Regions from separate parts of the Homo sapiens genome. Here region 1 is linked to region 2. The links come from fine-mapping of genetic effects on gene expression. A gene starts in region 2. The other region holds a variant in brackets. All regions are shown on one strand. Distances are between the middles of the regions. Region 1 overlaps LINC01740 (long intergenic non-protein coding RNA 1740). Region 2 holds the start of PACC1 (proton activated chloride channel 1).

The links. PIP is the estimated chance that this variant, and not a neighbour inherited with it, causes the effect. A credible set is the group of variants that fine-mapping cannot tell apart.
Region 1: its variant is the best candidate, but not a certain one, in a credible set for the expression of PACC1 in whole blood (INTERVAL, PIP 0.72).

Annotation. Positions count from the first base shown.
Region 1 is chr1:212,553,394-212,556,305 of GRCh38, reverse strand. It overlaps LINC01740 (long intergenic non-protein coding RNA 1740), which reads right to left. Exons shown (of 3, transcript NR_125985.1): 2 at 1,858-1,894; 3 at 240-463. Among named protein-coding and RNA genes, the nearest start is that of LINC01740, 9.2 kb to the right of the region's middle. The variant G/A (reference allele first, on the strand shown) is at 1,428.
Region 2 is chr1:212,413,168-212,416,079 of GRCh38, reverse strand. PACC1 (proton activated chloride channel 1) reads left to right here and starts at 1,194. Exons shown (of 8, transcript NM_018252.3): 1 at 1,194-1,358. The coding sequence starts at 1,323. RefSeq lists a silencer at 1,483-1,542.

The DNA of each region.
Region 1 (2,912 bases), 140 kb before region 2:
GAGAGCATTAGAGTGTTATTTTCTGTTTGAGATATTTTTTAAGATAGTGTTGCTTCAGGAACATTGTAGTCATAATATTTTGCAGTCTAAATCCTTATTTTAAAAAATCTCATAACTTTTTATATCCTATTTAAAAGTATTGATATTGATATATTGGATTGGATTATTAGCTTTATAAATAAATACAATCACTGGACCTCTGTCAGTCCCAAAAACAAAACTTGTTTTGCACCTAAATTGTTTATTTTATTTTATTTTATTTTTAGCTGAGTAGTTAAGATTTCAGGCCTTTTTAAAAAGTCATGTGTTTAGGTATAATTTACATGCAGTAAAATTCACCCTTTTAGGTATAAAGTTCTGGAATTTTGACAAACATAGTCATGTAATCATTACCACAATCAAGACAAAACATTTCCATCACCCCAGGAAGTTCCCTTGTGCTCCTTTGCAGTCAATCCCATTCCTGAAAATAAAATTTTAAATAAAATTAATAAAACTTTCTAAAAACATGTCTGATTCATGCCACTGTCTGTCACCATCATAAATGGACTTACTTGGTCTCAATATGGAATTCACAAGTTATCACATCAGTCGAATAATTATGTTCTTGCTGATTTAGTCAAAGTGAGATCATTCAGTGCTCAATGGATGGCTGCATACTAACATTTAAGACTTGAGAGGATACAGCACAGCAGGGGACTATCATGATGACTGTTAGATAGGATTTGGTATTTAGGATAACACCAAAAAATGAAGCGTATTCCTTAACAGGAGCCCTGAGGGACCAAATTGATCCAAATCAAACAAGTCAAAGCTTAGGTAAGTAATATAGGCAGCTTAACAGTATTTGAGTCCATTTGGCCATAATCCTTATTCAAAGTGTGATGGAAATTAAGGACCACAGCTTGCTATAGAATGATCTGATTTAAATAAGTATCCAATTTTGTCATTAACTTGATAACACAAGCCTTAGTAACCTGGAGACCCACTAGAAGAACATAGATTAGAAAACCCTGGAAAAGCCAAGCTTGCCATCCACCACTCAGGATTCCTGCAAACCAACTGTTAGCTGCTGCCATGGACACAGCATGTGTTCCTTTCCCTTAAGAAATTTCCTTCATGTATTTGATGGCAGTGTCTAAAGAAACAGCAGTTTCACCTTTGTTTTTAGTTAAGCTTCCTCTAGTAACAAAATTAGGGGACAGACAGGCACAATATTCAGTTTTGTCAATACTATATACAAGCCTCCAATTTGGGCGAAAAGAAGCTCTAAGTCCACATGATGTTCCAGTAAATGTTTTTTCTTAAAACATATGCTGTCTGGGCGCAGTGGCTCATGCCTGTAATCCCAGCATTTTGGGAGGCCAAGGCGGGTGGATCACGAGGTCAGGACTTCAAGACCAGCCTGGCCGAAATGATGAAACCCC[G/A]TCTCTACTAAAAATACAAAAATTAGCCGGGCGTGATGGCACGCGCCTGTAATCCCAGCTAGTCGGGAGGCTGAGGCAGAGAATTGCTTAAACCCAGGAGGCAGAGGTTGCAGTGAGCCGAGATTGCCCCACTGTACTCCAGCCTGGGTGACTCCATCTCAGAAAAAAAAAAAAAAAGTATATATGCCATCATCCACCTTTCTCAAAGGATGACTTCTGCCCGTTTGAACCTCTGGGAGTTCTGGTTAGCCACAAAGTCCAGGATTTTTCCCCAATTTATGGATTGGTTTCAAATTCCATATGACTGATACACTACTACTGCCAAGAGTGAGCCCTCAAGAACCCCATTGGAATCATTCCTCAGTGGAAACTAGCTTATCTTCATAAGCCTAACAGTTGCTCTGGTTTTTTGCTAGAGCATAAGCCTTACCTAAAGCCATCCATAGATTATGGTTCCATGGATTTTCCTGCAAGGAAAAGGAAGTAATTAGGACATAAGGAAACAGGGGAGAAAGAAAAAAGATAGACCACAGTAAACAATTGCCAGCTGAGAATAACAAGACTTCAAATGTTCATAGTTAAAGATCTGATGAGAGTTCATTACGATGATAACACAATTGAGAAGGGAATTTGGTTATTTCTGTTGCATGCAACATTTTAAGATAGTAACCAGAATTATGACTGATAATGTTATTCCAGAACTATCAAATTTCTATGAATTTCACACAATTTCTGAAATATGTTAATAACACATTCATACAAATATAATCCAAAGAAGGTTTAGCCTTACTTCTTATTTGGCAATGCTTCCCGTATAATTTAATATACCAAGTAAGCCCAATTAGCTTAATATTTCTCTTTTCATAAGGAGAAAATCAACTTACAAAAGGCAGATTAATGGGAGAAAAAGCATACAAACTTATTAGCATGCATAGGGGAACTATCATAGAGTGATTACGCCACCATGCAATGGGACACAGATGCTTGTATATACCCTTCTTCTTAGGAGAAAGGGAGATGGGGAAGTGTGGATGATTTTAGGGTAGTAGTAAATGAATTTTGGGGAATTCAGTAGGCGTGAGGAACATACAATGGCCTGAGACAAAGTCTGTTGGGCCCGCAGAGCAGACAATGGTTTGTGACAAAAGTCTGTCCAAATTTGTTGACAAACTTCAGTTTTTCTTCCTGTGATATGAGTTCAGTTACTGAAAACTCAGGGAAGGGACCACAGGTAATTGTTTTCTTCTTTGGTGGACCCAAACTTTAGGCAGATCAGGGAACTTCAGAGAACAGATTGGCCTTGTGCTCTGGGAGAGAGTGCGGAGAGGGGTGGGGCATGCCAGAGAGACCTTGAGAGGCTTCATCTGAAGTTCAGCATGTTAAAGTGCCATACTTTAGGGTGTTGGTTTCTGAACCCCAGCACCATTGAAGGAGTTCAGGAAATGCCACCCCAAAATATGTATATTGGTATATATATTTTTTTGT
Region 2 (2,912 bases):
AAATGAAATGGCTGGAATCAGTGTTCCATTCATAAATTTAACAAACATTTGTCGAGTGCCTACAATGTGTTAGGCACTATATATATTGTCCCATATAACAGATTTAAGAGCAGAGGGCCTAGGATAGGGGTGAGTGGTCAGGAGAGGTGATGGGGACCTCCCATTGCTAATGCTCCAGGAGGTCCAGGGTTCTTTGATGTGGCTGGCACTATTCTGCTTATCACTGAGGAGAGAAGAGGCTCCCAGTGGCCTGAGTGGAGGGGTTACCAAGCTGCAGCTGCAAGGGACACAGAGCAGCATTCACCAAGGCACAACAAGCAGCCTCTATCTGCTTCACCACTGAGGAGCCGAGGGCCCTCACACAACAGCTGTTTCAGGCAGTGGGAGGAGAGGAAGATGTGGTCTTCAGGTCCACCCTGCCACAGGGCCAACACCAGATTTGACGCCACATCTAGCGCTTGAGGCTTCTTCTGTGGCTGAACAGCGGCTTTAGGCTTTCTCTGCACGATCCTTCCTTTCTGCTTTCATAGGCCTTGTCAGGCAGGGCAGGGTTTAGCAGTTGCATTCTAAGGCGAGGAGAGGAGGGCTCAGAGCATTGCAAGACCTAAAGGGGAGGGTCAGAGCCAGGACAAGAACCTAGGGGTACTCCTGCCCCTGGAATAATGGAGAGAACATGGGCTCCGCAGTCTACCCCTGGATGAAATAATCTTCATTTGATTACCGCTCCACCCGCATCCTTTCTGAAACAAAGTACCTCAGTTTCCTCATTTGTAAATTAGGGAGAAAAATGTCCTTCTTACAGGGTTCCTTGCAGAATCAACGGCATAATGTGAGTGAGAGCGCTTTGTAACTAACATACAAAGTGCTCTCCAGACATTTATTACCGTTTTAAACCGCCAGGCCAAGCTTCCTCTTGCAATTATAGATTAGGGGCTCCTACTCATCTGACTTTGTTCCACTTTCCACTCCTCTTCTCCGTCCCTCCCCCTCCAACAAAGAGAGGAAGTGAGAGACGCAGAGGCACGCGTCTAAGGACCAGCTTAGCTGGCCCAGGGTCACATGCAGGCCTCCGCCACAGGGGTGAGAGCTGGTGTGAGGGGCGCCCCCGCCCAGAACTACATTTCCCATCAACACTTTCGCGACTCCTGGGCGGCAGCGGCCAGGCGCATGCGCCGAGTATCGCCACGCCTGGTCTCTGGGACGCCCCTCCGGACCGGTTTCGCCTCGCGGAGCCGGTAGGTCCAGGTGCAGCGGCCGCAGTGCTGCGTCCGTGCGCCGCGGGCTGGGGCGGTCTCAGGTGTGCCGAAGCTCTGGTCAGTGCCATGATCCGGCAGGAGCGCTCCACATCCTACCAGGAGGTACGAGGTTGTGAGAGACGGAAGGGAAGTTTGAGGCGGAGGAGCAGGGTCCCGGGGGCCTGGGCGGATGCGGGGCGGGGGGTGTCGGGGCTGCGCGGCAGAGGGCTCTTCCGAGGGACCGACGGGTGCGTCAGGGGAGGGCTCCCGGGGTGCAGAGGAGCGGCCCAGGGGCAGGAAGGAAGCGGGGCAGCGGAGCGGGCGCCCAGCGTTCTCCGTATGCTGCGGGTTGCATGGCCGAGGTCCGGAGTAGGGTCCCCGGCGCCGCGACCCGTAACCAGCAGGTGAATGATTGAAGCTACCTGAGGCCCAGCCTTCCGCGCTCCCCGCCGGAGCGGCAGCCCAATGGCCCAGAGGAACCCGGCGTTCTTTGCAACAAGTGGAGCGCCCGCGCCCTCCTCCCGGCGAGATCTGATGCGCGGTCGGCATCGTCGGCATCCTCCCCCTCCAAGCCCAAGGCCTCGCTGTCCCCGCGGCTGGTGACAGGATTGATTACCTGTTTTTTGGTGACCACCTAACTTTGAAAAAGTGCCTTCATGGACTCTGCTAGTTCTCGCTCCTCTTCGTCTCTCCCTCCAGTCTCACCTCCTCCCACGACTTTATCACTTTCCAGTTCTTTGTCTCTTCTCTGTCCTGCGCTGCAGGCTGTGCGTCCAGCGCTTCCTTCAAGCAAGCCCTGCCTCCTCACTTCTCCAGCTGTATTAGTGAAACTGCTCTCCTCCTCCGCCTCCACTTCTCGGCCCCCAAACCTTGGTCATCTTTGGCAACCGTCCTCTTCTGTGCCCCTCCATCGTGCCGCCTCATTGGCCAAAGTCAGGCAGTTCCAGGTCGGTCCTCCTCCAGTTTGTGTCCCTGTGTTTGCTGTAACCTCTGAGTGCGATACTGTGTTACCATCGCTCCCTTTAGTCTCTTATACTCTCCAGATTTGCCTTGAGGCCCTGCCTTCACCTCGGAGCATTCCTTTTTTCTCAGACCTGACGCTGCCCTTCGTCTGCCCAGAACAGTCCAGACTTCTCAGCAGGCTCCCAAAGCTCTGAACAGCACAGCAGCCATGTCTCCCATTACCTTTGCCACCTCCTAACCCACCTAGGGTCTGGCACAGTGGAAACTCAGTTTTAAAATGTGCTCCTGCCTCTGTGCGTGTGCTCACTCCATTCCTTCATCAACGCTCCGCCAAGCTCCATTGGGTAAAATGCCCCCAGAAGTCAAGGGCTACCTCAAGTTCCATGTGTTCCATAGGGGTCCGCTTTCCAGACCCGTCTGCATTTCTGTCTGTCCTTCTCATAATGAACTTGCTGCCTTCTGTCTTAGTCAATAGTTACTGCTGTACATATCTCCCTTTGTAAAAGACTGATTCACAGAAGGGCTTTGTGGACTATATAAAGCAGGTGGCTTAGCCCTACAGTGGAGGGAGAAGCCAACTTGAAGGCAGATGAGATTTGCCTAAGGCTTGCCATTTTTTAGTGTAGGATCTTGGCTGGAATCTGGCCTTGGACAGATTTCTATATTTCTCCTCCCATCCCCTTTATTCCATCTGTTTCCTTTGTCTGAAAGGAG